3 separate regions of the Homo sapiens genome follow, and regions 2 and 3 are each linked to region 1. The links come from fine-mapping of genetic effects on gene expression. A gene starts in region 1. Each other region holds a variant in brackets. All regions are shown on one strand. Distances are from middle to middle.

What was found.
Region 2: its variant is fine-mapped to the expression of PANX1 in spinal cord (GTEx, PIP 0.93).
Region 3: its variant is fine-mapped to the expression of PANX1 in whole blood (TOPMed, PIP above 0.99).

The regions. Positions count from the first base shown.
Region 1 is chr11:94,123,589-94,134,568 of GRCh38, forward strand. PANX1 (pannexin 1) reads left to right here and starts at 5,253. Exons shown (of 5, transcript NM_015368.4): 1 at 5,253-5,905. The coding sequence starts at 5,725. RefSeq lists enhancers at 5,186-5,245, 5,566-5,825, 9,645-10,144 and a silencer at 5,476-5,545.
Region 2 is chr11:94,205,815-94,216,794 of GRCh38, forward strand. It overlaps LOC105369435 (a long non-coding RNA gene), which reads left to right. Exons shown (of 5, transcript XR_947901.3): 3 at 8,268-8,437. Among named protein-coding and RNA genes, the nearest start is that of PANX1, 82 kb to the left of the region's middle. The variant T/G (reference allele first, on the strand shown) is at 6,650.
Region 3 is chr11:94,189,311-94,200,290 of GRCh38, forward strand. LOC105369435 (a long non-coding RNA gene) reads left to right here and starts at 8,099. Exons shown (of 5, transcript XR_947901.3): 1 at 8,099-10,681. The variant G/C (reference allele first, on the strand shown) is at 4,910.

The DNA of each region.
Region 1 (10,980 bases):
AAGGAAACCGTCGGGCAGATGCTAAGGCCAAAATTGCTGCCAGGCAGAACCTCCCATTCCTGCAAAAAACTGGGTCTTTACCAACTTAACATACCACCCTCGTTTTGAAGGAAAAGACCCTTTCCGACTTCTAAATATGCAATCATTAGCCAACTTCCCCATCTCTGATAGGACCAAGAATACCCTAACAGGACATGCGATACAACTTTTGCGTTCTTACATTTCCAACCTCACCTATTACACAAGCAATGAAAAGCCCATACACAGCCCTGTAACTACAAATACCATCTTAACTTTCCAAGCCCCTTTATGCATCCAATGCAACCTGTTATCAGGTCTGCTCCTGGGGCACCTACTACCACATCAGTGTAATTACACCATACAACTTCAAGCCCCAACTGATCATAGTAACTTCCAAGTCACTCAAACAGCTCCATTCAGACGGCTTGTCCACGTCTCAGGGGCCCCCAAAATCATCACCTCCTCCCTGCTTAACAAACAGTCCAGGTTTTGTAATGGCAAACATACTCTCTGCATGACCATTCACCCCTGGACCCCCTGCAGCAGTATCCCCACCACTAGTGAATGCCATCTCATCCCCTCTTTCAATCGCTCTCTCGAATGGTTCCTAGTAGATACAAAATGGTTTTTTCTCCAATGGGAAAATAGAACACAGGGAGCCACTCAGTTTGCTCCCAACACCCCTTTCCAGCCACTCATAGCAGCTATCTTGGCAAGTATTCTAGGAGTATAGGAAAATGAAAACAATAAACTCACACACCTTTATAACATACACAACCAGTTCTGTCTACCCAGCCAAGGTATATTCTTCTTATGTGGAATGTTGAACTATATCTGCCACCCCACTAACTGGAAGGCACCTGCACCTTAGTATTTCTAAGTCCCGACATTAACATTTCCCCAGGAAATCAGACCCTATCAGTACCCCTCAAAGCTCAAGTCTGTTAGTGCAGAGCCATACAACTAATACCCCTACTTATGGGGTTAGGAATGGCTACTGCTACAGGAACCGGAATAGTCAGTTTATCTACTTCATTATCCTACTACCACACACTCTCAAAGGATTTCTCAGACAGTTTGCAAGAGATAACGAAATCTATCCTTATTCTACAATCCCAAATAGACTCTTTGGCAGCAGCGACTCTCCAAAACGGCCGAGGCCTAGACCTCCTCACTGCTGAGAAAGGAGGACTGTGCACCTTCTTAGGGGAAGAGTGTTGTTTTCACACTAACCATTCAGGGATAGTATGATATGCCACCTGGCGTTTACAGGAAAAGGCTTCCAAAATCAGACAATGCCTTTCAAACTCTTATACCAACCTCTGGAGTTGGGCAACATGGCTTCTCCCCTTTCTAGGTCCCATGGCAGCCATCTTACTATTACTTGCCTTCGGGCCCTGTATTTTTAAACTCCTTGTTAAATTTGTTTCCTCTAGGATCGAGGCCATCAAGCTACAGATGGTCTTACCAATGGAACCCCAAATGAGCTCAACTAACAACTTCTACCGAGGACCCCTGGACCGACCCGCTGGTCCTTTCACTGGCCTAAAGAGTTCCCCTCTGGAGGATACTACAACTGCAGGGCCCCTTCTTTGCTCCTATCCAGCAGGAAGTAGCTAGAGCAGTCATCACCCAATTCCCAACAGCAGTTGGGGTGTCCTGTTTAGAGGGGGGATTGAGAGGTGAAGCCAGCTGGGCTTCTGGGTCAGATGGGGACTTGGAGAAATTTTCTGTCTAGCTAGAGGATTGTAAACACACCAATCAGTGCTCTGTGTCTAGCTAAAGGTTTGTAAACGCACCAATCAGTACTCTGTAAAAACACAGCAACCAGCGCTCTGTGTCTACCTAAAGGTTTGTAAATGCACCAATCAGCACTCTGTAAAAATGCACCAATCGGTGCTCTGTGTGTAGCTAAAGTTTTGTAAATGCACCAATTATCACTCTGTGAAATGGACCAATCAGCGCTCTGTAAAATGGACCAATCAGCAAGATGTGGGCGGGGCCAAATAAGTGAATACAAGCTGGCCACCAGAGCGGCAAGCTGCTCAGCTTCCCTTCCATGCTGTGGAAGCTTTGTTCTTTTGTTCTTCACAATAAATCTTGCTGCTGCTCACTCTTTGGGTCCACACTACCTTTAAGAACAGTAACACTCAACACGAGGGCCCGTGGCTTCATTCTTGAAGTCAGTGAGACCAAGAACCCACCAGAAGGAATCAATTCCGGACACACTATTTTCCAACAAGTTCTCCATCTGGCTTCTATTTTAAATTCATTAAAAGTAGGATAACATCATATGGAATGTAAAAAATTGCCAAAACTGAGGGCAATTTATGCAACTGCTGAGATTCACTCCAGATCCTCAGAGGAACTTGCTATGTAATGAAAAAAGAGATACACAATCCATCATCCCATCACAGGAGGCAAAATGAACTAACTTCTAGGCCAGAGGAGAGAGTAACAAGGGAGGGAAGGATTCATTACAACTGGAGGATCCTGGAAGGCTTCCTAAAAAGGGGGCATTTGAGCCTAAAAAGGGGCCATTTGAGCCTATCGGATGATTAGCTTTTGGCAAGGAAAGAAGGGAAATGGCACCCATGATTTCCTGACTCCCAGAAAGCCCCTGTCCCAGCTCTGAATGTCCCAACTGACACATTCTCCCAGGCCCTACTTATTCTCTGCACCTCCCTTGGTATACCCCACTTTTCACAATAATCACTCTTTCTACCTTGCATTATAGTTAATTGTGTGCATGCCTTATTTCTCTTGCTAAGCCATAAGGTCTTTGAGGAAATGGAATCCATTCACTTCATTTCTGCTTCCCCATCCACTGAGCCCAGAACTGGCCCATCACCAGCCTCTAATATATGCCTGGAATGTATGGATAAATGAGTGTGAACTGGGCCAGTTTTAAAAAGTGTTCAGATTCCTTCAGACATTTATTTAATAATATGAATTAAAACATCAACTCTGTGTGAGGCATTTGTGCTAAGTGTTGAGGATAAAAGTGGTACACATGGGCATGGGCCTACCCTCAAGAAGCCGATCACATAAAGTGGTGGCAAACACTAAATAAATGAATAAATATTTGTTGAGTTGCAATGGTGACTATTTTTAAGAAGGAAAAATAGAGAACAATGACAGATGAAATGTACCTAGATTCACAAGGTGCCAGGCACTGGGCACTACCCACGTGTTAACTCATTTGGTCCTTATCACAGTCCTAAGAGGTACAACCTTTTTACAGATGAGAAAACTGAGACACAGGAGAGTCAAAGAACTCCCCAAGACTAATAGCTAGTAACTAGTGTGGCTAGTATTATGGGAGAATTTCACAAAGGGACCTAATCTAGTCTGTCTACTTAGGGAAGGCTTTCCCAGGGAAGTGACATCAAGCTGAGGCCAGAAGGGTGAATAAAGGTGGGCCAGGCAAAGAGGCCACTGTGGGGAGTGTTTTGGGTGGGAAGGCCTGGAGGAGGCCAAGGGCTTAGCTAACTTGAAGAACTGAAAGGAAAGCAGTGAAGCTGGTGGTGAGGTAGGCAGAGGCCATGCTAAGAAATTTGTATTTTATGCTAAAAACAATGTACACTTTAAGTAGAAAAGATGATCCGACTGGAGTTTTGAAAAGCTCATCCTGGCAGCTGTAGAGGAGAATGGAGGGGGACCCTGTCTCACATATTTCCTATATGTGGTTAGGAGACAGGATGGTGAGTTGAATTGGGTATTGGCAGTGCAGGTGGAGGGGTGTCAGATTTGCTATATTTAGGAGAGAGAAGCAAGAGAATTTGAAAATTGGTTATGGCAGCTGTGAGAAATGGAGTGTTGAAGATGGTGCTCCAGGATTCCGACTTGGGTGCACAGGTGGCTGGTGGTACATTTAGTAAGATGGGGAAGATGGAGTTCAGGTTTAAGGGGAAGATGAAGACTGAAGTCCTGGCCGTTATGAGTTTGAAGCCCTATGAGCCATCTACGCGGAGAGAGCTGTATACGCTCTTGGATGTGTGTTTAGCGGCCAGGCTGGGGTGGAGAGGTACATGTGGGAGTTGAGGCTTGTATCTGTGGACCCACAGAGAAGGGAGCCAAGCCCTGCCCCAAGGAGCCCTCATGTTTGCAGGTCCTGCCTGCTTCAAATGTTACTGGTGATAACCTACATGTCACATTTGACAGGGCTTCCAAACTAAGCCATCTAAGAAAGGTCTTATGATTCATGGCTTAGATCCTGTCCCTGAGTAAAAAATCTTACTGTGAGTCCTTCAAATCCTTTTGTCAGTTCCTCAAACTGCTGATGTACTGATTAGTATGTAAAATACTGACATTGAAAAGAACACTGACTTGTTTCTGAATCATATAAACTTTGATTTTCTTGTGCACAAAACATTTTAGCCTGTATGTTGTCATCTGCAGCCAGTGACTGTAACCTGTGTACCATACCCTCCGATGAAAAAAATCCCACCTCTGATATAAGGGGTCCTCCTCCCTTTTCCTAAACTTTCTTCTAAAACCCTTCCAACGTGTAACAAATTTTGAAACATGCCCAACTTTGCTGGTAAGTCTTCTTGGGTGGATCCTCACATTTAGCTTCCAATAAATCAAATTATTTCTACTTCAACAGCCTTAATTTCCGTGGACACTGGTCAGAGTATTTCCTCCTGTCTTTCCATCATCCACTTCCTATGAGCTGTTCAGAAGCAGCTCTCTGCAGCCCCAACACCCACCTACCTGCAGGCCCCCCTCTCTCTGCTGGCTCCCGGAACAAGGCTCTGATTGGGATGGCAGAGGAAAGAGAAACGGGACCAGCAGCGCTACTCAGGCCTCGAAACTCCACACTCACTACCGTTTCCGCGCCACCCTCTCACGCGGAGCTCCTGGAAGGGTCCAGCGCTCCCTCTGCAAGGCACCGTCGGTCTACACCGCTCGATTGGCCTTTTATGGCACTGACTGTTCTTTGAAGCTTTTGCAGCTCCTTCTAACCCGATTTCACCGTGTTGGAAATGTTGGGGGTGGGGCGTAAAGGGGGCCATCCCATCCACAGAAAGAGTCGCTTGCAGAAATGATTTTAAAACTCCCGGGTGCCAGGACGTGAGGAGAATCCGGCAGGGAGGGACGGGAGAATTTCCAAAGGTGCCGCTCAGTGGGAAAATCCCTTTGTCAGAGAGTGGCCCGAGGGGCGCGGAATGCAGCCGCGCCCACCCCGCCCCGCGTCACCGCGTCTTCCGGAAGCTCCACGCCCCTGGGTACTTGGTTTCCCCGCATGGTTCCGGAAGAGCGCGGCGCAGCTGGCTGTGAGCGCAGGGCTATCCCGGCGGCCGCTTCGGCAGCCAGGGCGGCGCGGAGGGGCAGGGCCAGAGGGAAGCGCTTTGTTCCGCGCGTGGTTCCCGCGCCTGGGGGTGCGCGGGAGAGGCGCGAATCCGAGTGCCGCGCGCGGCCCGGGGACTTGCACGGGCGTGCGGGGTGGAACCGCAGGAAGCGGAGCTCTCGGGTTCCCGCCCCGCCCCGCCCCGCCGGCGGCGGAGGCAGCGAGCGCGAGAGCCCAGCGGAGTCGCTGGGAGCCTGAGGCACCGAGACACAAAGGCAGGCGGGATGCGGGAGCAGGCAAAGGGAAAGCGAAAGCCGCGCGCCCGGCCGGTGACTGGGTGAAGGCGCCGCGCAGCTTTCCCGACGCCGGCTGTACCCGGACCTCCTGGTCGAGCCTGGCGCGCCGCAGCCATGGCCATCGCTCAACTGGCCACGGAGTACGTGTTCTCGGATTTCTTGCTGAAGGAGCCCACGGAGCCCAAGTTCAAGGGGCTGCGACTGGAGCTGGCTGTGGACAAGATGGTCACGTGCATTGCGGTGGGGCTGCCCCTGCTGCTCATCTCGCTGGCCTTCGCGCAGGAGATCTCGATTGGTAAGCCTCGCCCAGGACGGAGGGGAGTGGCCGCCCCGGTCTGGCCCGGTGAGCTGCGATTTTACGGCTCACAGGCCCGAGTCTGGGTACGCCCAGCTGTGATGGTCGTGAGCGTCAGGAAGGGCAGTGGCCCCAGTTTTATGGTCCAAAGCGTTCTTTGCCCAGGTGTTTCATTGGTACCCTGGTCTACTCTGCTCGCATCCCTACTCCTCAGTTCTTTTGTTCCTCATGCCCCTCTGATCGGACTGTGGCTTATAGTTTATGTTCCACCCTTAGAACTGGCACCTTGCCACCAGATTTGCCAAGAATAGCTGTGTCCCCGTTTTTCACCCCTGTCTCCTACATATTTGTCCAGCCGCCTAAAATTTTACACCAGAGAAGTTCCTGAGTGGCTACATGGAGGATGTGAAGACCGGTGCTCCATGAGAAGTGTGTTCTTTCAGTGTCTTACATATAATTGGTATTTGCTGAGATCTTAGCTCTCTAGGGTTGTGAATGATAGGAAATATCTGCACTTGGCAGGCATTAGAGGGATCCTCAACTTGGACGGTCTTACAAATGTGAGATGAACAAGTCCCCTTCCTGTAAATTATCATTTGAGCTTCATAACAGTTGTGTGAGATTGGAAAGTCTGGTGGTTTGGGCAGGATCACGTGGCTACGTGCCTTACCTTCCTCATCAGCTGTTCTGACTCTCCACACAGGAGAGAGTGTTTATGAACCAACAGGAAGGTAGCGCAGGAGGGTTAAATACAGTTCTGTGGCAGGGGAAGAGAGAGGACCCAGTGCGGCTGGACTTTGGGAAAACTTTTGTCAGAGGGTGGGTGGGATTTGGACAAGAAGGAGTAAGACCTTTGTTAAGGTTTTGAGATGGCAGAGAATGTTATATGTTCCTGGAAAGAGAGACACAGTGACTCTCCTAGCCAAGGCAGGAGGATAAGTCAGAGTTCCTGGAGTCTGAGAGTGAATATGGGCCTGGGTCAGCCTGGAACAGAAGAGTGTAGGCTGATGGTTTCAGAACTGTGAAGTTATTGTTTGAGCAGAGGACAGACTGGTTGAATGATGGTGGCATTTAGGGTCTGGGAAGAAGGTGAGAGGATGGGGCCTGGAGGGCTGGGTGCCAGAGAGCAAGGCATCGGCTGAGGTCTTGTGCACAGAGGGTGTGAAGAGTGGAAGAAAATGGGTGGGTGATTGCTGTGCGATCAAGGAGTAAATAAGCAGCACTTGAGTACCTAGTATTTAATAGGCCATGAACGGCAGTACTGGTCAAACGTGCTGCGGAGGTTGTATGTCTGGGTGAGTGGAGTGTGGTGTTGGTGGTGATGGGAATTGTGAAGTTGAGGGAATAGTTGATTAGGAAAGAATGACTATGAGTGTGATTTTGCAATCTGCAGCACTAAGTTGTTCAGCTTGGCAGGAAGTTGCCAAATTCATTGTGGAAAATAGTTTTTAGTTTTCCTGCTCTTTGCGCAGGCATAGTCATCGGGATGTTCTTTAAGTTTCCATTTGACAGTGGATTGAGGCTTCCAGCTGAAAGCAAAACCACCAAGTAGCATGAGTCCTGGAGATAATCTCTCCCTTTGGTCAATTCCTCCTTCAGTACTGGCTGTGTGCTGAACTCGGTGCTGACCTCCAAGGACCCGGGAGTAAAAGAGGCATGATCCCTGTCTTGGAGGTGCAAGTCTTGGGTACCTGGTTGGGACAGAAAGGCAGGAGGAAGGAGTTAGTCACCCTCTGTGACCAATCTCCACCTCTAGCACATGTACTAGAGGGACTCCTAAGGCACCTGTACCTGTAATGCCTTAGATACGTCTAAATTGGTGGGCTGTCTGAGAGGTATTTTTGGGGTATTGGGAGTGGTTTTAACTAGCAAGAGTTTGAGCTCATGCTGTGTGCATAGCACTGTTGTGTGCTGAGGGAGATGGGAAAGGATTTTGAGACCTTGTTCTTGCCCTGCCCTCTCCCTGCCCTGTGGCAGTTTACTATGCAGTTGGGCACTAGAAGGTATCTGTTAGCAGGTAAGTCATTCAGCTGTGTGTAATTCAGCACCCAGCCAGGTGTTGAGCTATGAGCTCCAGGCTGGTGAAGGTTGGCAGGCACTTGGGTGAGGAGCTGTCAAGCAGACTCCCATGTTTTCTGAAGTGTTTTCAGGAGTTCCAGGGGAGGACAGACATGTGGGATGAAGCTAACAGGACCAGGGAAGACCTATTAGATTAGGTATACATTTAGATAAAACCAGAAGAAGGGCTTTTGAGAAGAGGGGAGAGGTACATAGATTAATACATGGAGTTGGTACAGTGGGAGGGATCATGTCATGCAGCATTTAATTTTGTGTAGTTAGTAGTATGCACTCAGCCAAAAACAAACCAAAAAAAAGAACAGCAATAAAGGGAGAATGAAGTAATTGAAATGGAGCTGGCACTTTGCCCACCATATTGGCCAGTGAACTCAGGCCCCGGGAAGACACTGAGATAAGGCCTGCAGACTTAAAACATGGCTTCATCCTTCCTCTGTTGATAATTACTGCTTCCCTCTCTGGTGCTTGGAATACTCTTTTGTTGAACTTAACACAGAGCTTTATAACCTGTCTATGCATGTTTTGCATGGAGATTGAAACTACTCTATAAACATTTGTTGTGAATTAAAGGTGATAGCTTTTGGCATCATCAGACCTTGCTAATTGATTGTTATGTGCATGATGCTGTACCTTGGCAATGGGGTGTCAGACACACGTAGGACATAAGAATCTTTCCTCTGGAAGCACGGTCTAGTAGAGAAGTTGAACGCATAACCCTCCTAATGCAGGATTCATGGAACCTGGGCAGTGTCAGAAGTGTGTACTAAAGCCTGATGCTGTGGAAAGGCAGAAGGAGGGGTTTCTTCTGACTCATGAACAGTGAGAGTTTCAGGGCAGAGTTGGCCCCTGAGGCAGGATTCCAAGTGTGTGGAGCAGTGTTGGCTGAAGCTGAGACGTGTGAGACAACATGTGGCTGCTGGAGCTTTAGTGGCACCGTCACATGGAGAGGTGGGAGCCAAAGTAAGGGTCCAGGGGCTCCACATGAAAGAAGGCATAGCAAATCCCATTGTTTTCCTGTTTGTGTTGGGGGGGTGGTGTGTGTGTGTATAAAATTAGAAACGAGAAAATCAGCTGTAATTACATGTTTTTCCTTTTTCCACCTGTATGATAAACTAGTATATATAAGAATTCATCTCTTTTGATATAAAATCCCCTCAAGCGTAAAATAAATTATATTTTCCAGTTACTTTCCAAAAATTAAATTTTCTGTCAACTGTTGTTTGATAAAATAGGGTTCAAGTTGAAACTTTGTGGCGATTTTTCCTTTAAATAAATGATTTTTTACTTTAAAGAAAATCTATTAAATCAAGAAATGTGCATGGATTGTGCTTTAGATTTAAGAGCAGGTTCTCTGTGGGGGTGGGAGTGTTGTAGGTTAGAGAGAGGGAATGTCCTCATATGATAAAATACTTGGCTTCATATTAAAGGCTTCCGTTTGGTCTTTGGCCTTTTCTCTTAGTAGTTCAGCCCACTGGGCTCCTCTCAGAAAAGAGGGACTGAGCCTGCCTGGGCCACAGAGACCCATGGGCATAGCAGCAGGCTGATCTTTATCAAGCCCTGCTGGGTGCCAGCATGGTGGCTGCAGGTGAAGCGTCCACTCCTCAGAGGTTCTGGCCCCTTCCCTCCCACAGCAGTTCACGCAGGTCCTGCATGGTAGGCACTGGTGTGGGGCTACCTGGGCTGGTGGGGACTGTGTTGGGGACAGAGAGCAGAAGGGACTCTGCCTTGCTCATTCACCAGATCTTGGTCTGGCTGCCCACAATCACAGGTTGAGGGTCACTGCAGAAGTGATGTGGTCTGGAGGGGCATGGCAAGGCTGGTGCCATGGTCAAGGTGGAGGCAACTTTGGTAGTCTTTGCGGCAGCCACTCATTGGTCCAGATGTGCCCTGTGATAGTGAGAATTACAAGCAGAAACCCTCCTGAGGGAGTGGCAAGGAGACTCTTCTGAGTTGTGCCTGGGAGCATTTTGAAGGCTTTTGGACAGTGAGATACTAAGGATTGAATGTAAGAACTAAAATGTGCACCTGTCTGGTTAGGCCTGATACTTCTAGTCAGCCTTTCTAAAATACTGCAGGTGTGCCTCCTCTGAGATTCAGCTGGGTAGGGGGAAAATAAGTGACACACAGCAAAAGACAGTTTAATTGTGAGTTTGGGCTAGAAAGGCTGTGTGGTGGGAGCCAGAGAAGGGAGAATCAGTGGTTTCACCAGCCCTCATTTTTCCTTCCTCTTGTCTTCTACCATGTCTTGCCCTCAACAAGTGCTCCATAGGAATTTAGTGAAGGAAGTGCCAGAGCACACTAGGGAACTCTCCCAGAGTGGCTGTGCTGAGGGAATGGACGGAGTGTTCTGGATAAGGGTCCCAGTTGCTTGGAAGTGCGCCCTCTGAGTGCCATTTAATGATACAAGTGCTGTCCTGGGTCAGGCCTGTCCTGGCCACCTCCCAGACACCTGCCTCTGATGATAGCAGTAAAGGATGCACATCGTCATGATAGGTAAGTTGTCCCACTTGATTTATAAGCTCAGGTTATATTGCGTGTGCCTCAGATTCTTTTTTATGTTATTTTTGTGATGAGGAAGAATCTGTGTTCAGAGTGCAGAATGGTGTACTGTGGAAGAAGGATGAGTGTGATCTGTGTGGCTTGGGTACCCTATGGGTGTCACCTTGTGCAAGCTGCTGGGAGACAGTGCCTTGAGGCCCTTCATTTCTAACACATCTACTCTCAGATGCCTCTAGAAGTGCTGCACATTTCATTGATGGGGGGAGAGGTTTAGGAAATGGCTGGGCGACAGCTTTGTGTAGAATATAAGCATGATTGCATGACGTGACCTTCAAGCTCTGAAATTCTAGAAGTATTTCTCTAAAGTTATGAATTCCCTTAGTGTGCTGCAGTTATGGACTGAATGTTTGTGTCTCCCAACCGCAAAATTCATATGTCGAAGTCCTGATCCCCAATGTGATGCTAATTGGAGATCCCTTTGGGAGGTAATTAGGTTTGGA
Region 2 (10,980 bases), 82 kb after region 1:
AAAGGGTGTTCTTTAAGCTGAAATGAAAAGATGATAATCAGTAACATGAAAACATTTGAAAGTCTGAAACTCAGTGGTAAAGCTAAGTCAAATAGAATAATACTGTAGTGGTTCTTTGTAAATCACTTATAAGTATAGTATAAAGGTTAAAAGATGAAAGTATTAAAAATAGCAATAGCTATAATAATTTGTATAGGATGCAACAAAAGCAGTTCTATGGGAGAAGTTTATAGTGGTAAAATGTCAACAGGAAGTTAAAATAAGTCTCACATAAACAACCTAACTTTACACATCAAGGAACTAGAAAAATAAAAACTAACATCCTAAAGTTAATAGAAGAAAGAAAATAATGAAAATCAGAGCAGAAATAAATAAAAAAGAGAGAAACAAAAGATGAACAAAACTAAGACTTGGATTTTTGAAATGATAAACAAAATTGATAACCTTTTAGCTGGACTAAGAAGAAAAGAGAGAGGACTCAAAATCAGAAAAAAGGAGACATTACAACTGATACCACAGAAATACAAAGGAGCATAAGAGACTATTATTAACAATTATATACCAACAAATTAGATAACCTAGAAGAAATAAGTAAGTTCCTGAAACATATAGTCTACCAGACTGAATCACAAAGAAAGAGAAAATCTGAACAGACCAATAATGAGTATGGATATTGAACAAGTAATAAAAAGCCTCCCATCAAAGAAAAGTTCAGCACCTGATGACTTCACTACAGAATTCTACCAAATATTTAAGGAACTAATACAAATCATTCTCAAACTCTTCCAAAAAATTCAATAGAGGGAACACTTTCAAACTCATTTTGCAAGGGCAACATTACCCTAATACCAAAACCAGACAAGAAAACTGAATTATAGGCCAATATCTCCGATGAACATAGATTCAGAAGTTCTCAACCAAATACTAGCAAACCAAATTCAACCACACATTAAAAGGACTGCACACCATGATTAAGTGGAATTCATCCCAAGGGTGCAAGGATGATTTAACATATGCAAATCAATAAATGTGATATATCACATTAACAGAATAAGGGATTTAAACCATATAATCATCTCAATAGATGCAGAAAAGGCCTTTGGCAAAATTCAATTTCCTTTTTTAATGTCCTTTTATTTTTATTTTTTTGAGGCGGAGTTTCACTCTTGTCACCCAGGCTGGAGTGCAATGGCATAAACTTCGCTCATTGCAACCTCTGCCTCCCAGGTTCAAGCGATTTTCCTGCCTCAGCTTCCAGAGTAGCTGGGATTACAGACACCCACCATGATGCCCAGCTTATTTTTGTATTTTTAGTAGAGATGGGGTTTCGCCATGTTGGCCAGGCTGGTCTCGAACTCCTGATGTCAGGTGATCCACCCGCCTCAGCCTCCCAAAGTGCTGGGATTATAGGCATGAGCCACTGCACCTGGCCCTTAACGTCCTTTTATGATTAAAAAAAAAAAAAAAACCTCAACAAATTAGATACGGAAGAAATGCACTTCAACACAATAAAGGCCATAGATGACAATTCCACAGTTAACATCATACTCAATGGTGAAAAGCTGAAAGCTTTTCATCCAAGATCTGTAACAAAACAAGCATGCCCAATCTTGCCATTTCTATTTAACCTAGCACTGAAAGTCCTAGCCAGAGCAATTAGGCAAGACAAAGAAATAAAAGGCATCCAAATCCTAAAGTAAGAAGTAAAATTGTCTCTGCAGATGACATAATCATAAATAGAAACACTAAAGATTCCATAAAATCTCAGTTAGAATTAATAAGCATATTCAGTATAGTTGCAGGTTATAAGATCAATATACAAAAATTAGTTTCTATATGCTAAAACTACTCAAAAAAGAAATTAAGAAAACAATCCTATTTTAAAAAGCATCAAAAAGAATGAAATACTTAGGAATATATTTAACCAAGGAAGTGAAAGACCTATAAACTATAAAACATTGATTAAAGAAATTGAAGATGACTCAAATAAATGGAAAGATACCCTATGTTCATGAATTAGAAGAATATTGTCAAGTGTCCTTACTACCCTAAGTAATTTATAGATTCAATATAATCCTTATCAAAAATTCCAATGGCATTTTTCACAGAAAATTCATATGGAAATACAAAAGACCCTGCATAGCCAAGGTAAAAAGAACAAAGCTGGAGGCATTACACTATCTGACTTCAAAATATATCACAAAGTTATGGTGATTAGCACAGCATGGTACTGGTGTGAAGACAGACACATAGACCAATGGAACAGAGTAGAAAGCCCAGAAATAAACCTATGCATTTATGGTCAGCTAATTTTTGCTAAAAGTGCAAGAACACACAATGGGGAAAAGACAGTCTCTTCAAATAAATGGTGTTGGTAAAACTGGATATCCATATGCTGCAGAAGAAAAGTAGACCCTCATCTCACACCACATAAAAAGTCAGTAAGAATGGATTAAAGACTTAAACATAAGACTTGTAACTATAAAACTGCTGGAGAAAAACATAAAGGAAACTTGCATGACATTTGTCTTATTTTTCGGATATAACTCCGAAAGCATAGGCACAAAAGTGAAAATAGGATGGTATCAAACTAAAAAGCTTCTGAACAGCAAAGGAAAAAAATCAACAGAGTGAAGAGACAACATACAGAATGGGAAAAAATATTTGCAAACCATATATCTGACAAGGGGCTAATATCCAAAATATATAAGGAACTCAACTCAAGAGCAAGAAAACCAATAACCTGATTTTTAAAATGAGCCAACAACCTGAATGGACATTCATGAAAGAAGACATGCAAATGGCTGACAGGTATATGAAAAATGGGCATCACTAATCATCAGGGAAATGCAAATTAAAACCACAATGAGATATTACCTCACACCACTTAGAACGGCTACTTTTTATCAAAAAGACAAAAGATAAGTGTTGGTGAGGATGTGAAGAAAAGGGAACACTTGCACACTGTTGGTGGTAATGTAAATTAATACTGCCATTATGGAAAACAGTCTGGAAGTTTCTGAAAAAAATAAAAATAGAACTACTCTATGATCCAGCAATCCTACTACTGGGTATATATTAAAAAAATCAGTTTGTCAAAGAGATATTTGTACTCCATGTTAATTGCAACATTATTCACAATAGCCAAGGTATGGAATTAACAAATATGGAATTCATTGTCCCTTAATGGATCAATAAAGAAAATTATATATATATATATACACACACACACACACATACACACACACACACAATGGAATACTACTGAGCCTTACAAAAATAAGGAAATCCTAACATTGGTTACAATATGGATGAATCTGGAAGACATTACGCTAAGTGAAATAAGCTAGGTACGGAAATATAAATACCATATGATCCCACTTATATGTGTAATTTTTAAAAGACATACTTAGGCAGAAAGTAGAATGGTGGGGCTAAGAGCAGGTGAGAGTTGGGGAGATGTTGATCAAAGGATGAAAAATTTCAGTTAGATAGGAGGAATAAGTTCCAGAAATCTATTGTAAAATATGGTGACTACAATTAATAACAGTGTATTATATTCTTGAAAATTGCTCAAGGAAATCAGAGAGGACACAAACAAATGGAAAAATGTTCCATGCTCATGGATAGGAAGAATCAATATCGTGAAAATGGCCATACTATCAAAAGTAATTTATAGACTCAATGCTATTCCCATTAAACTGCCATTGACATTCTTCACAGAACTAGAATAAACTATTTTAAAATTCATACGGAATCAAGAAAGAGTCCATATAGCCAAGAAAATCCTAAGCAAAAAGAACAAAACAGGAGGCATCATGGTGCCCAACTTCAAACTATACTACAGGCTACAGTAACCAAAACATTATGTAATGGTACAAAAACAGACACATAGACCAGTGGAATCAAATAGAGAACTCAGAAATAAGACTGCACACCTACAACCATCTGATCTTTGACAAAGCTGACAAAAACAAGCAATGGGGGAAAGATTCTCTATTTAATAAATGGTGCTGGGAGAACTGGCTAGCCATATGCAGAAAATTGAAACTGGACCCCTTCCTTATATCTTATACAAAAATTAACTCAAGATGGATTAAAGACTTAAATGTAAAATCCCAAACAATAAAAGCCCTAGAAGAAAATGTAGGCAATACCATTCAGGACATAGGCATGGGTAAAGATTATATGATGAAATGCCAAAGGCAACTAGAACAAAAGCTAAAATTGACAAATGGGATCATTTTAAACTGAAGAGGTTCTGCACAGCAAAAGAAACTATCATCGGAGTGAACAGACAGCCTACAGAATGGGAGAACATTTTTGTGATCTACCCATCTGTTGAAGATCTACTATCCAGAGTCTATAAGGAACTTAAACAAATTTATAAGAAAAAAACAACCCCATTAAAAAGTGGGCAAAGACATAAACAGACACTTCTCAAAAGAAGACATTCATGCAGCCAACAAACATATGAAAAGGAGCTCAACATCACTGATCATTAGAGAAATGCAAATGAAAACCATAATGAGATACCATCTCATGCCAGTCAGAATGGTGATAATTAAAAAGTCCAGAAACAACAGATGCTGGTGAGGCTGCGGAGGAAAAGGAATGCTTTTACACTGTTGGTGGGAGTGTAAATTAGTTCAACCATTGTGGAAGACAGTGTGGCATTCCTTAGAGATGTAGAGGCAGAAATACTATTTGACCCAGCAATCTCATTACTGGGTATATACCCAAAGGAATATAAATCATTCGTTATAAAAATACATGCACGTGTATGTTCATTGCAGCACAATTCACAATAGCAAAAACATGGAATCAACCCAAATGCCCATCAATGATAGACTGGATAAAGAAAATGTGGTACATATACACCATGGAATACTATGCAGCCATAAAAAGGAATGAGATCATGTCCTTTGCAGGAACATGGATGGAGCTGGAAGCCATTATCCTCAGCAAACTAATGCAGGAACAGAAAACCAAACACTGCATGTTCTTACTTATAAGTGGGAGCTGAATGGTGAGAACACATGGACACATGGCAGGGGAACAACACACATTGGGGCCTGTGGGGGGTAGGGGTCGGGGGGAGGGAGAGCGTCAGGAAGAATAGCTAAGGGATGCTGGGCTTACTACCTATGTGATATGATGATCTGTGCAGTAAACCACCACGGCACGTGTTTACCTATGTAACAAAACTGCACATTCTGCACATGTACCCCAGACCTTAAAATAAAAGTTGAAGGAAGAAAACCAGAAAATCACTAAGAGTAGATTTTTAATGTTCTTTCTCACCACAAAAATTATAAGTAGGTGAGGTAATGCATATGTTAATTAGCTCAATGTAGCCATTTCACAATGTACATATTTCAAAATATGTTGTTACATAATAAATGTATACTTTTTTGTTAGCTACACCTCAGTAAAGCTGAGGAAAGCAAGAAACCAACTTTGGATTTGAGTGTGCCCAAACCAGTGGCCAAAACCAGATTTTTGTGTGTGTAGTTAGCTCTATGTACAATTTTTTCTGTCTACACAGTTGAAACCACTAGGAAGACAGAGTATTTGCCTCGAAGCTCATTGCAGATTCTAGCAGTTTAATTTGGATGAACTGCTTGGCTTCAGAAAGAGACATGTATTGCAGTCAGGCACCCCATGTGCACAGTTAACAGAGCCCACTCAAACAGTGAAACATTAAAATCTAGTGCAAAGGTCCTCTGTGCTTCATCCAGAATTTTATAGGACTCTAAAGCCCAAACTGACCATAGGAATCACTTTTTGTGACCCAAATGTGATCCATCAAAAGGATGTGATGAAGAGAAAATTCAGGCAGTTCTGAACCAGAGCCAGAGGAGACTGTGTCGGAAGCTGTGTCTCAGCTTTGAAGACATATGTAGCCATAAAATGAACATAACATCCAGAAACAATCTTGCCAGAAGTTGTGAATTATTGGCAAAGGAAAATAACTGGGCATTGTTTGAACAAGCAAAGACATTTGAAATCTCCTGGTTCTCAAAATCACTGTGTTGCCCTAGGGCAGGTCCCAGGCCTCATCATGGCAGGAGCGGGGCAGGTGGAGACTGATGGTAGAGGGGAACTCTGTGTACTCTAGTGCCAACCTCAACCCAGAAGTGACTATCATTTGAAAGTTGAAGGAAAGCTGAGAATCTGCATGAGACATGTATAAGATAATGAGGAGGACCCAAGCTCTCCAAGGGCAATCAGAATCAAGCATCCACACAAGATGACACAGGCAACTTCTCACATAGAGCCATTTTCCTAGAGCCATTATCTTTTCTCTCAGTTCACAAAAACATGTGACTGCCCTCTCAAAACGTCCTGTTATGAATTGAGCACAGTCCCCATTTGTAGTGTGAAAGGGCAGAGATCCAGTGGGGTTAATTCTCATGATCTGAAAACCATTGAGTGCATAGCATTTAAAGCCACTGGGTTTGCTCCATTCTAAGTCTTTTCAATAGATTTTAATTTGACACTGTTAAATTATGCATTCATGTATCCATTCACTTCTCAGCAAATATATATTGCCACTACATGCCTTCCATCTTGAAATGTCATAACCCCAGCTCCCATCCCATATGGGACAGCTTCCTCTTTCACTCTTTGTAATTCCTTCTCCTTT[T/G]GCCCAGAAAATTTTCTCATGATAAGCATTGTGGTATAATTTAACAATGTCCATGATCTGTGTGATGCACTATGTGTTTTCTTTTACATCTATATTTTCTTCTACGTGATGTATGTATAATGAGTATTATATGGAGAAAAAGCCAGAGATTTAAATTTGAAAGTTTGGTGATGCTGCCTGCAGAATATAATCAATAGCCTGTTCCCAGAGCCCAGACAATGGATCCTCATTACACCCTTTAAACCGGTATTAGAAACATGCTGCTCCTTTGACTACCTCCTCCACGTCAGCCCTCTACCCATGTCTTAATGGGCATCACCTTTCTTGACTGTATATTATCTTCAATCCATTTTTCACCTGGAGTTCCTGGCGTAAGCCTAACCCTTAACATCTTTCTGGTGTCTTTCTAAGGGAAGAGGGGAGTTGAATGCCTCCTGAATAATCTCTTAAATTTTAATTTAGGCCGTCTGACTCACTCTTTTAAGATCATTCAGTAACTTCTTATTACTTTAGAATAAATACAGACTTTTTTGCTTGACATTCCAGGAAAACTGGATTCTCCTTATCTCTCCGGCATCCTCTATTGCCCTGAACACACTGTTCATATTCTGTTTTTCTCATTCTGAAAATAGGAAATGCAGTCAAACCAGTAGTTCTCAAAGTGTAGTCTGTGGGCCAGTAGCCACAGCATTCCCTGGGTGCTTGTGAGAAGTGCAAACCCTTGGTCTTTATCCCACATCTACTGAATTAGAAACTCTGGAGGTGAGGCCACTATCTTAACCAACTATTTTAATCATCCAGATGATCCTGAAGCTTGAGAACAATTAATTTTTATGTGTGATGGGGGCAGGGGCTTGCTCTGTCTCCCAGGCTGGCATGCACTGGTGTGATCACAACTCACTGCAGCCTCAACTCCTGGGCTTAAGCGATCCTCCCACCTAAGCCTCCCAAGTAGCTAGACCTACAGGCATGCACCACCATGCCTTGCTAACTTTTCTTGTGAAGGCAGAGTCTCAGTATTTTGCCCAGGCTGGTCTCGAACTCCTGGACTCAAGAAATCCTCCTGCCTTAGTTTCCCAAAGTGCTGGGATTATAGGCATGAGCCACCACACTGCACCAAGAACAACAGATTTAAACCATTTCACATGATGGAAGGCACCAATTAAACACATATAAAATGTCTGCTTAGCCTAGTCTAAACTACCAAGGATTGGAAGACTTTAATTTCCTTGGGAGGTCTCCCAGCAGGTTACTGTGGCTTTTATCCTGCCTTCTCACTTTTTGGAAGCTCTCAGAACAGGGAAGTCCTTCAGAGGAGAGAATATCGGTCTCCTTGTCCATGTTCTCATCCCTCCCATTTTCCCATGCCTCTGATTGTGTGCCCTCTGTTCTACCTCCTCGGTGTTCCTACGTCCCTGGGAAATAAAAAGTAGTTGCTTCCCACGAAAAGATGAGAATGTTCTTCAGAGTAAAAGTGAAGTCTTTTAAAAGCCTCATTTGAGATATTGTGTTATCATCCCATAATATGTTAACTGAAGGGAATGGAGAGGGAAGAGGCACCTTCGTTCAGAGTAAAGTAATTGAAAAGCTTAATATACACCGAACTGTGTCTTTACAGGGTCCGCCGCATCTTGGAAGGAAACTTCAAAGCTCATTTAAAGTCAGCCTCTCACATAGCCCTGCTGGTCTAACTTTCTTCTGAATGTGATTTCAGAAGTAAAACCAGGCCAGGGGCTGGGACTCAGGTGAGTCTCACTGACCGTGACCTCTGGAGAGTCAACTGAAATGGTAAGCCAGGAAGTCATGGAAATCTTACCTCCCCTGCAGTAACAACGTCTACTCTCAAAGAAATGCCAATGGCACAGAAACCACAGGGGTTGTTTATCTCTTTCTTTTTTCTTTTTAAACATTATAAAAATAACACAGCAATTTCTAAATGTCAAAAGAGAGAGAAATGAAGCTATCCATAATTTCAAAAGCCTATCCTAGTAACTACTGTAGATTTTTGCCTGAGCTTTTTAGGCTTGGGCCATTTGTGCTCTGTGCTGATGCGTGCATTGTGTTTTGAAGTTTATCTTTTTTTTAACCTTATCATTCATACATTTTCCCCAGATTGTTGCCAGGTAAACCATGCAATCCAGAATTATGGACTATCAGAGCTATAAAGGGTTTTGGAGATCATTTTCTGAAGCAATTCTTAATTGGCTCTTCAAAGATGAGCTTTTGACAGTTTGTGTCACCCCTGAAATTATTTGTGAAATTCTACACTGAGTTTGTGAATCTTTCTACAGATAGTGTTATCCCTGTATTTCATTAGATCTTCAAAGTGGTTTACACGCCCTAAAGGTTGTCTATTCTTCTCATGCAGTTATTCTATGTGCAGTCATTCAAGCTGTGTTTTACTCAACTTGTTGTTGGAGGGAAGGGGGAATAGCACATAGGCTATAATATCCTCTAGAGTTGTGCAGTACACAATTGCACAGCCATGGATGGTGGACTGACATTCTAATCCATCCTTATTTTGTGGTTGGCACCACAGAGCTGAGGAGTAATTTGCCCTGTTTCCATAGCTCTTTGCACACATTTCTTTAAACACACTTGCATTATATTGAAATGATTTGAGAGGATCTGTTTAATTCTAGTACTTAGTATTAAGAAACCCACCGTTGCATACACTAATGCTATGTTTTCCAATATCAGCTTTATTACTAACAAAATTTACATTTTATTTTCCCTCTGCTTGACTTCTATTTTTCAATTGATTCCAAACTTAGATAGAAAAGAGAGATGCAATTCATTGTCCCTGAAACCTTAAACATGTACATGATGAGTCGATCAACAATTCATAAATAAAAGAAGAACAAAAAATAGCTATATAAGACAGTGAGGACTAAGAACGGATGAAAAATGAATTCCTTCTCTAGTCCTAACTGCTAGAAATGTTTCCCCTGAGGGTATTTTTGTACTTTGTCATTTCTCTATTTAGAAACCTCAGCTCCCTCTTCTATTAAATTTTGCAAGGGCTTCTGATAATCTTAACAATTAATAGCTAGTGCTTACAGTTCTCAAAACACTTGCAATTACATTAGCTCATTTGAGTCTCAACAGGAACAGGTGTCGTCTCCATTTTACACAAAAAGAAAAAATAACTCAGCAAGATTGAGTTATTTGTCCCTGCAAGTGGCAGAGCTGGGACTCGAACAGGGTATATCTGACTTAAATACATCACGCCAAGTCCCAGTGCCAATGTGGTAGACGCTGCCAATGGGTGCCAATGTGTGGTTCTCCTCTATGTCCAGATAAGTAAGACTGTGCTTCCTTGCCCTCTTAAAGTTGGCTATGTTTGTGTTACCAGATATAGCCAATAAAATGAGAACAAAAGGGATGTGTGTTGCTTTTGGACCAAGTGCTTAAGTCTTAGTGGTCAACTCACCAGTTTTCCCTCTTCCCTTGCTACAGCTTTTAACACATGGAAGCACTTTAAAAAAATTCAACTTTTATTTTAGATTTGGTGGTACCTGTGCAAGTTTGCATTGTGTGATGCTGAGGTTTGGAGTACAATTAATCCCATCACCCAAGTACTGAGCATAGTACCCAATAGTTAGTTTTTCAATGGTTCCCTCCCCTTTCCCTTCCCCCTCTAATTGTCCCCAGTGTCTGTTGTTTTCATCTTTTTGTCTATGAGTACCTAATATTTAGCTCCCACTTATAAGTGAGAACATGTGGTATTTGGTTTTCTGTTCCTGCGTTAATTCACTTAGGATAATGGCCTCCATCTGCATCCATGTTGCAAAATACATTATTTCATTCTCTTTTATGGCTGCGTAGTATTCCTTGGTGTATATGTAGCATGTTTTCTTTATCCAATCCACCATTGATGGGCACCAGGATTTATTCCATGTCTTTGCTATTGGGCATAGTGCTGCAATGCGTATACATTTGCATGTATCTTTTTGGTAGAATGTTTTGTTTTTCTTTGAGTATATACCCAGTATGGGATTGCAGGGTCAAATGGTAGTTCTGTTTTAAGTTCTTTGAGAAATCGCCAACCTGCTATCCACAGTGGCTGAACTAATTTACATTCCCACCAACAACGTATAGGCATTCCCTTTTCTCTGCAGCCTTGACAGAATCTGCTATTTTTTATTTTTAAAATAATAATCATTCTGAATGGTGTGAGATGTTATCTCATTGCGGTCTTGATTTGCATTTCTCTGATGATTAGTGATGATGAACTTTTTTGCATAGGTTTGTTGGCCACTTGTATATCTTGTTTGAGAAGTGTCTGGTCATGTGTTTTGCCCATTTTTTAATGGGGTAATTTGTTTTTT
Region 3 (10,980 bases), 66 kb after region 1:
CTCTACTAAAAATACAAAAAAAATTAGCCAGGCTTGGTGTCACGTGCCTGTAATCCCAGCTACTTGGGAGGCTGAGGCAGGAGAATCGCTTGAACCCAGGAGGCAGAGGTTGCAGTGAGCAGAGATCACGCCACTGCACTGCAGCCTAGGAGACAGAGCAAGACTCCGTCTCAAAAAAATAAAAATAATAATAAAAAAAGGGTGGTCTAGACACTCTGTCCAGTTGAATATGAGAGACGTATGTAAGTAATTTTAAATTTTCTAATAGCCACATAAATGAGTGAAATTAATGGTTATTTTAACCTAATATATCCAAAAGACTTCAACGTGTAATCAATATAAAAATATTGAGTTTCTTTTATTATACTTTAAGTTCTAGGGTACACGTGCACAACGTGCAGGTTTGTTACATATGTATACATGTGCCATGTTGGTGTGCTGCACCCATCAACTCGTCATTTACATCAGATATATTTCCTAATGCTATCCCTCCCGCCTACCCCCACCCCACAACATGCCCTGGTGTGTGATGTTCCCCTTCCTGTGTCCAGGTGTTCTCATTGTTCAATTCCCACCTATGAGTGAGAACATGCAGTGTTTGGTTTTTTGTCCTTGCAATAGTTTGCTGAGAATGATGGTTTCCAGCTTCATCCATGTCCCTACAAAGGACATGAACTCATCCTTTTTTATGGCTGCATAGTATTCCATGGTGTATATGTGCCACATTTTCTTAATCCAGTCTATCATTGTTGGACATTTGGGTTGGTTCCAAGTCTTTGCTGTTGTGAATAGTGCCACAGTAAACATACGTGTTCATGTGTCTTTGTAGCAGCATGATTTATAATCCTTTGGGTATATACCCAGTAATGGGATGGCTGGGTCAAATGGTATTTCTAGTTCTAGATCCTTGAGGAATCGCCACATTGTCTCCACAGTGGTTGAACTAGTTTACAGTCCCACCAACAGTGTAAAACTGTTCCTATTTCTCCACATCCTCTCCCGCACCTGTTGTTTCCTGACTTTGTAATGATCGCCATTCTAACTGGTGTGAGATGGTATCTCACTGTGGTTTTGATTTGCATTTCTCTGATGGCCAGTGATGATGAGCATTTTTTCACGTGTCTGTTGGCTGCATAAATGTCTTCTTTTGAGAAGTTTCTGTTCATATCCTTCACCCACTTTTTGATGGGGTTTCTTTTTCTTGTAAATTTGTTTGAGTTCTTTGTAGATTCTGGATAGTAGCCCTTTGTCAGATGGGTAGATTGCAAAAATTTTCTCCCATTCTGTAGGTTGCCTGTTCACTCTGATGGTAGTTTCTTTTGCTGTGCAGAAGCTCTTTAGTTTAATTAGATCTTATTTGTCAATTTTGGCTTTTGTTGCCGTTGCTTTTGGTGTTCTGGACATGAAGTCCTTGTCCATGCCTATGTCCTGAATGGTATTGCCTAGGTTTTCTTCTAGGGTTTTTATAGTTTGAGGTCTAATATTTAAGTCTTTAATCTATCTTGAATTAATTTTTGTATAAGGTGTAAGGAAGGGATCCAGTTTCAGCTTTCTACATATGGCTGGCCACTTTTCCCAGCACATTTATTAAATAGGGAATCCTTTCTCCATTTCTTGTTTTTGTCAGGTTTGTCAAAGATCAGATAGTTGTAGATGTGTGGTATTATTTCTGAGGGCTCTGTTCTGTTCCATTGGTCTATATCTCTGTTTGGTACCAGTACCATGCTGTTTTGGTTACTGTAGCCTTGTAGTATAGTTTGAAGTCAGGTAGTGTGCTGCCTCCAGCTTTGTTCTTTTGGCTTAGGATTGACTTAGCAATGTGGGCTCTTTTTTGGTTCCATATGAACTTTAAAGTAGTTTTTTCCAATTCTGTGAAGAGAGTCATTAGTAGCTTGATGGGGATGGCATTGAATCTATAAATTACCTTGGGCAGTATGGCCATTTTCATGATATTGATTCTTCCTATCCATGAGCATGGAATGTTCTTCCATTTGTGTCCTCTTTTATTTTGTTGAGCAGTGGTTTGTAGTTCTCCTTGAAGAGGTCCTTCACATCCCTTGTAAGTTGGATTCCTAGGTATTTTATTGTCTTTGAAGCAATTGTGAATGGGAGTTCACTCATGATTTGGCTCTCTGTTTGTCTGTTATTGGTGTATAAGAATGCTTGTGATTTTTAGACCAATAACAGGCTCTGAAATTGAGGCAATAATTAATAGCCTATCAACCAAAGAAAGTCCAGGACTAGAAGGATTCAGAGCCAAATTCTACCAGAGGTACAAGGATGAGCTAGTACCATTCCTTCTGAAACTATTCCAATCAATAGAAAAAGAGGGAATCCTCCCTAACTCATTTTATGAGGCCAGCATCGTCCTGATACCAAAGCCTGGCAGAGACACAACAAAAAAAAGAGAATTTTATACCAGTATCCCTGATGAACATTGATGCAAAAATCCTCAATAAAATACTGGCAAACCGAATCCAGCAGCACACCAAAAAGCTTATCCACCATGATCACGTGGACTTCATCCCTGGGATGCAAGGCTGTTTCAATGTAAGGCAAATCAATAAACGTAATCCATCACATAAACAGAACCAAAGACAAAAACCACATCTCAATAGATGCAGAAAAGGCTTTTGACAAAATTCAGCAGCCTTTCATGCTAAAAACTCTCAAACTAGGTATTGATGGGACATATCTCAAAATAATAAGAGCTATTTATGACAAACCCACAGCCAATATAATACTGAATGGGCAAAAACTGGAAGCATTCCCTTTGAAAACTGGCACAAGACAGGGATGCCATGTCTCACCACTCCTATTCAACATAATGTTGGAAGTTCTGGCCAGGGCAATCAGGCAGGAGAAAGAAATAAAGGGTATTCAATTAGGAAAAGAGGAAGTCAAATTGTCCCTGTTTACAGATGACATGATTGTATATTTAGAAAACCCCATCGTCTCAGCCCAGAATCTCCTTAAGCTGATAAGCAACTTCAACAAAGTCTCAGGATACAAAATATTGAGATATTTTACTTTTCATTCTAAGTTTTTTAATTTCAGTGTGTATGTTTTACTTAGAGCACATCTCATTTCACACTGGCCTCATTTAAACAGCTCAATAGTCGCATGTAGCTAGTGGCTACCATATTGGACGGAATAGGTTGGCCAGACTATTTTATGCACATCTGTTCCCACCTAATGAAGTGCTTCACTGTCCCTGTGTCCTTGTCAGTGTCTTTCTTTTGGCCTGGAATTCTCTTCCCTTAGAGATCGGTCTCCTTTCTGCAAGATTAAGTTGCCCTCTAAGCAGAATTGGTTAACTGGATGCATATTCTCGCCTGCTCACAGTGATGCAAACTAACTACCTCCTCCCTTTGAGGCTTTTTTATCTGAAATAAACGAGTAAGAACTGGGCTGCTTCCCCAGTGCCCACACTGTCTTGCCTTAATTGTCATTATTGATGTTTATTTTGTTTTGTTTTGCTGCTAGTCCTTCTCATAAAGGCTACAAGTCTGTTAAATTCAGGCATCTTAGTGCCTTTTTAGTAGTCTTTGTTAAAGAAAAGTTGTTCGATGCACTTGTTAAAGCATGGGACAGCAAACTTTATTCAGGACCATCACAACAGGTATCAGGACCACTGCAATGGGATTTCACAGTGGGAGAGATTGGGCTCAACTTCGAATACAGCATGGGCAAGTGGAAATTTATAACCAAGAAGCAGGATGGGGGTCATTGGATGGAAAATTACTAAGAGGAACCATCAGAAGTTAAGGAGATTGTCGCCAACTCAACCTAACAGTAGGAGCAAATAATCTGTCAACCTCCCCACCCCAACCTCAGTCTAGCAACATGCTGAGCACACAGCAAGCTGAGGGGAGATGGATGGAAGCTGAAAGTCAGTGTGTGGGTGATGTAGTGTTTCACCCCTCTGAGAGCAAACTACAGGTGCTCATTCTTTAACCTGTGAAGTGGAGAAAGCAATGTAATAAGAGCACATGGTAGAGTCCCTCCAAAAGTTTTCCCATCAGATGAGCTTTCTAAGTCATAGACTCCCACTGCCTAAGTGGAGAAAAATTCATACCCTATTTTCTCCCAGCCTAGTGCTCCCTTCACTATCCTGTGCCTTCCTCCAAGCCTGCAATCTGTGCCAGGTGATTCATCTCCCACTTGGCCCAAGGATGGCCTTTGTGCAGCACATCAACTGAGAAGCTGGGCTCGTATTCAAGCCAGTGAGTCATCCCTGAGCATTGATCAGGTTGGGGCAGGGAACCAAGGGTTGGTGGGCTTTTCCCTAGATAGGAAACTCATGAGGAAATAGCCTTCATGACTTCAGACTCAGTTGCAGAGTGAAGTTGGTATTCATTCATTCAACAAAGGGTTTTTCAAACACCTGCTATCTGGTATTGGGCATATTAAGGTGAAAAATCCAGCAAGCCTCTGGGGTCATGGAGTTTGCTGGGAATTATGGTGGCAAAAAGGAAAAGGAAGACCAAGAAAGCCTAAAGCTTTGTTTCCATCTATAATTTCGCCTCTCTGAGCCATTTGCCCAGTGAGGGGCTTGGACTAAACAACCTCTAGAATCTATTGGTCTGTGTCTCTGTGGTCTATGTCTTCTTTCATCGTGTCCCACACTAGATCCCTGGGAATCCAGATGGAAAGAAGGAAGGAAATTAGTATTTGTTGAGTGCCTACATGCCAGGCATTAAACAGTGCATATTAGCTCATTAAATCTTCACAATCCAGTGAGGATGTTCCTTTAGTTTTGGGGTGAGGGACATTAAGGGAATGGGTTCTCAAGACAAGCTGCCTGAGTTCTGGCCTGAGGCTGCCCGCTGACCTGCGTGACCTGAGTTCTTGACTCCTCTGGGCCTTAGTTCCCTCCTGTATGACAGAAAGTCATGGATTTTGACGA[G/C]GGCTGAAGTCGATTAAACAAAGGCAGTAAACGTAATGCCGGCACATAATAAACACTCAATCCCTCAGTCTTTTTTAAGTCTAGCAGCATTTTCTTTATTCACATCGTAAGCCATGTTTGAAAAACGAGAAAATCCCAAACTATTGGAGCATTACAGACAGGCGATTTAGCATATTGAGAAAGCCCAATTTGAGTTTTGATATCAGAAAATCTGGTTTGGAGTCTTAGCTCTAATACTTCCAAGAGGTGACCCAGTGAGTCACTTAAAATGTTTTCCCTGTACCAGTGTCTACTCCTCAGGGTTGTTGTGAGGATTCAATGAGAATGATGTACCTGGCACTCTACAGGAGCTCAACAATAGCTATTTATCTTACCTCAAATAGAAACCCATTTACAATAGTTAAGTGAAAAGGACATCATTTCGAGCTGCTGCTCAGAACCCAATGGAGGCGAATTCAGCTGGGAAAGGATACTGGAAAGGCTATTGCTAAGACAGAAAAACTCGACCTCATCCAAGAGCAGCGAGACACCCTACCCTCAACCCCCAGGTTTTGTCACTGGGCCCTGTGTGAGTGGCAGCAAAGATGGCAGAGTTGTGAAGGTGCCGTGGGCATTTTTGGAATGACTCAAGAACATCTTTGACTCAGCACGGGCAACAGCCAGATGGACCTTGTGGGTGTGAACCTCCCGAGCATTTGGAGCGGAGGCTGGAGAAGCTACCCAGGGAACCCCAGCCCCCAGGGCCATTGTGCAAACCCGCGTGGGCACTGCCGGAGACACACACTCTGCCTGCTTCAGCGCTCCTCTCCCCGGGCCAGGGCTGCCAGCTCATCCTGCCCTGCCTGGCTGGGGTGGCAGAAGGTGAATCCCAAAACAGGCCACTGGCTCCTCTCATTTTCTACTCCTTTCTCTTTTGTCATTTATTAGTTTTAGTTTTAATTTTCAAAGATGATGCAAGCTATTGATGAGTATACATTTATTGCAAAAGAAAATCGGATAATATAGAAATATAGTCATGCATCACTTAACAATGTAGATACAGTCTGAGAAATGCTTCTTTATGTGATTCTGTCATGTGAACATCGTGGAGAACTTACCCAAACCTAGCTACTATAACCTAGATCGTATAACCATATGATGCAGCCTATTGCTCCTGGGCTACATACCTGTACGGCATGTTACTGTACTGAATTCTGTAACACAGCATTAAGTATGTGTGTATCTATCAACTCTAAACGTAGAAAAGGTGCAGTAATACCTTAAAAATAAGGTATGTTGTATGTGCAGTCTGTCCTCAACCGAAATGTTATCACTATGCAATGCTTGACTGTCTATGGAGTGAGGGTCCTCCATGCATTGCTGCCTTTCATAAGCCCAGTCTGGACTGCCCAGCAGAGTCACGGTTATCACCAGAGTGTCCACCTCCTTGCTCGTCTTGAGGTCTTATACTTTGCACCAAGCTGCCTTGGTCACCTGTTTAATGATTTTAGGACTGAATTGTTTCAGAAGGGAAAGAGCATCATAATTTTCTGACACATATTTAAGCATATTTTTCTATCAACATGTAACATTTTGGTCAAGTGCCACTAGTTTGAGGAATTCTTTTTCAACTGGATTTAAAGAGGCTCTGAAGGCCAGCAGATGCAGTTTTGCTGCACAACTTAAAGAACTTCCTTGATCTTCTAACAACACAATATTCAACCAAGAAATAATGATAATATCACTTACTCCAGAAGACTCTTGTGAGGGTTAAAAGAGGGAACAGATGTCAGCAACTACAATGCCTGGCACAGGTGAAGCCTAATATTAGTTCTGGTTATTTTATTAGAATCTGTTGTTGGCCTTACAGTAGAACTCTCAGTAATTTTTTACCGTATTTTCATGTTTTATTTTTTTATTTTTTTATTTTTGAGATGGAGTTTCGCTCTTGTCGTCCAGGCCAAAGTGCAGTGGCGTGATCTCGACTCACTGCAACCTCCACCTCACAAGTTCTCTCTTCTTAGCTCACCTCCACCCTGGGGTCCCCTCTTTCTTCCTGCAGCCCCCAGAACAAGCCGACAACCAACCTGCCCTCAGATAACTCCCCATCATGTCATCAGAAGAGACATGCACTCAGGTGGTGGTGCACAGGCTTAGGGGGCAGGCGGGAAGTCTCCTGGCCCTAGGAAAAGTTTCCTTCACAAAGCACCTGCTGTGGTAGGTGCTTTGCTAAAGCACACAGTCTAAATGAACTAGTTTACCCCTTACTATGTAATAATGAGTAGGTTGGCACCCTCCCCAGAAGAGTAAACAGAAGCCTGGGAGCTCCATGACCTGCCCAAACCACACGGCCAGGATCTAATCCTGGGCCAGCCTGACTCGAAAACCCGAGTCATGTCAGTGCTAACTGTGACCAGAGGACTGCTTGCATCAGAATATGTGGACATGCTTGTTAAAAAGGCAGATTCCTGGGCCTCTCCACAGACCCACTGAGTCAGGACCTCTGGGGCAGGGCCTGGGGATGTGCATTTATCACACCTTCCTGGTGACTCTGAAACATACCAACATCTGAGAATCCCTGCCCTGTGCTGTACTGCCTGCCTGTGCACTGAACCAGGGGGACCCAGCAGAAGACAGCTAGGAGAAGGGGAAGTTGTTCCAGAAGGATCAGAATCTGTCAACACCTGTTTATTAGGAAGATCTAGTGGCGTTTTTGGGAACCAAAGGAACAATGAAGGTCCCTGAGGACACCCCCACTATAGGCCATGCTAGAGGCCTGGTGCCCTGCACACATTTCTAGCTCCTTTCACCAGTTCCAAGAAAAGACAGTGTTCTGAGAGGGCACGTACATTCACAGAAGCAACAAGGCAGCACCAGCTGTGGCCCACTGGACTATCTTGGCTTCCCACCCTGACTCAAGGGCTGGGCATCCCTGATGGCCCTGTGCACCCCACCCCCATGAGTGTAGCCCACCCTGAACTGGGGCTGAGTGCTGCCAATGTGGTTGGCCCTCTGATAGGGTTTGGCTGTGTCCCTACCCAAATCTCAACTTGAATTGTATCTCCCAGAATTCCCAGGTGTTGTGAGAGGGACCCAGCAGAGATAATTGAATCATGGGGGCTGGTCTTTCCTGTGCTATTCTCGTGATAGTGAGTAAGTCTCACGAGAACTGGTGGGTTTATCAGGGGTTTTCGCTTTTGCTTCTTCCTTATCGTCTCTTGCCACTGCCATGTAAGAACTGCCTTTTGCCCTCTGCCATGATTGTGAGACCTCCCAGCTATGATGGACTGTAAGTAAAATTAAACCTCCTTTTCTTCCCAGTCTTGGGTATGTATCAGCAGCGTGAAAACGGACTAATACACATCCTTAGTTGGAAGGGAGCCAGAGGGGTCAGAAACATCCTTTATGGTGGAGGGGGCACTTTATGTTGGTTGTCTAAGTGAGTTTGGGCTGCTAGAACATGAACACCACAGACTGGGTGACTTAACAGAAATGTATTCCTCACAGTATGAAGTCTGGGAAGTCTAAGATCAAAGTGCTGGCTGATTTGGTTGTTGGTGAGAGCTCACTTCCTGGTTTGTGGAGGGATGCCTTCTCACAGTATCCTCACGTGACTGAGGGAAAGCTAGCTCACTCCCTGGCTGCTCCTTAAAAGACACTCATCCCATTCATGAGGGCTCTACCCTCATGATCTAATTACCCCCCAAAGGTTCCACCTCTAGACACTATCACATTGGGGATTACAGCTTCAAAATATAAATTTTGGTGAGACACATACATTTGGTCCATAGCACTGACGTCGTCTCATTTTGTAGTCCAATAGCAGGAAAAAGAGGGTCAATTATCCCCACTTTATAGATGAGGAAGATGAGTTCTGAGACAGGGTACGGAGGTAGAGTAGAGGGGGAAAGAAGCTAGATGAAGGGCGTCATATCCCCTAATTTGTCCTGAGGTAGGGAGGGGGAGAGCTGGTAGCTGTCACATGAGTGGTCACTATATAGACAAATAGTGGGGCCCACTTCCAGGGCAGGACTCAGAAGCACTAGTGGAGGGTCCAGTCCAGAGAAGGGACTCCACAAATGATGCCGCTGTAATTATTGTCTGATCATCTATTCATCACACATTTTCTGAGTACATCCTCTGTGGTGAGCACTACTCATATGTTCTTTATCATCCTCATGGACATGACACCCCACTTGGCCTGCGGTGGCTGGAGACCTGGGGAGGAGTCATATCACAGCTTTTAGACCCACTCTGACATCGAGGTTAAATGCAACTTTAGGGCCAGCAAGTACAAGCCTTATTCTGCCACTTACTAGCTGCAGGGCCTGGGGTGGCACTTGGCCTCCCAAGGGAAGGTGCTCTTTTCCCCATTTTACAATTGAGAGGACAAGATATGAGAGGTGAAAATACAGACCTCCCTGACTAGAATTCATTCTCCCAACCACCATGCACACTAGTGTTTCCCAGAGGTGGTCCTGCAGGCTTCAGAATCTTGTGAGGTGTTTGGAGAGTGATTCCTGACCCCTCCTCCGACTCAGTAAATCTTGACAGTGAGGCCCCAAAATATGAATTCTTCACAAGCTCTGAAGGTGATTCTTATGTGTGTTGGGGCTTGAGAATTGGCTCTCCTGCCTCCTCATTTCCAGTCTTTAAACAGGGATCTGCACAGCAGCAGGCAGCAGAAGTAGGCAGCGCTCTGGAAATACAGTTGGCAAAAGCTCTCTCCCTTAAAACTAACAGGGAGAGAGCTAACTCCATGACTGGCATGACATCTGTGAACAAAGGAAGTGACAGGGCCACCAAGAACTGCTGTGGGCCAGTGAGAGCAACAGAAGACCAGGTCCTAGCCTTCCCTGCTGAGAACTTTACCCATTGCCTAGTGAGAAGGAACTGGAGATGCCATCAGAGCTGCATCGTAGTAATGCTGGTAGATTTCAATTTTTACAATTTATATTTGTTATGAATGTATTCACCATTCCTTAGAGTATGTTTAATTATCCTCAGTCTTTGTTCTGCTTTTAAAATCCACATTGAAAAGGCAAAGTGACATGTGCTTAAGAGGTCTTTAATAAATACTTTGGTCAAGAACAGGGAGGGGGTAGTTTAATTCCTCCTGATTAGACCCGCCTACTTCCCGGCCATCTGAAATTTAAATTTAAGTAAAAGTCAGTATGCTTTCTAAATAAATGCAGTTTCACAACACAACCTTTAGCCCACACTCAAGCAACTATATGGCTGCCCCTAATTCCTCCTCTATTGACATTCAGGAGCTGCCAGGGTTTCTGTAAAAGTACCTGAACACAGTGGATCAACCAACAGTGGCTCTGGGGTTTAGAGTTTTGAGCAGCAGCTCAGAATGATATCCATCTGCCTTTCTGAATCACAGCCAACTTCTGGCCTCTCTGCACAGATTTGGTGCAGGAAACTAGCCATACCCACGCCCACACCCACAGCTCGCCCCGTGCCTCCTTCATCTTCATAATTCTGCTCCCACCCTCTTCCCTCTTCCTTGCCCTTCAAGTTGCAACACTGAACTGAGTTTATGGATGATGCTCAACAATTTATTGTTGATTAACTGATTGATTGATTCTGTTGCTATGGAAACCATCAGATTCTAGTACAACAGTGGGATTCCTTCCTGACTTTATGCTTGACAAAATGCTGACTCTCTGTGCTTGCTTCTCCCAGCTTGCCACCTCCATCTGGGTCAGGAGGAGCAATTGGAAGCAGAAGCTCCAAGAGAAAGGTGGGAATGTTGGTAAACCCAGGTGAAAAAAAGCAACAAGGAGGGTAAGTGGCCCTGCAATGTGGAAATTTCCATCAGAAGCAGCCTACACAGTGATTATAAGTGTCAGGGCTTTTAGATCAAGCTATACCTGGGTTCAAATCTCACTTCCTCCACTTATTAGGCTTAAGGTTAATTAAGCCTTTCAGCCTTCATTTTCTCATTTGTTTTAATTGAGATAATACTGTGCCTTTAGGTTGCCTGGAGAAATTACGAAATGATACAAGGAAGTTAGAAAGCAGAGTGCCTGGTACCTACGGGAGCCTTGCCCAGGCCAAGAGGGATGCAGACCTCCCATTTTTTA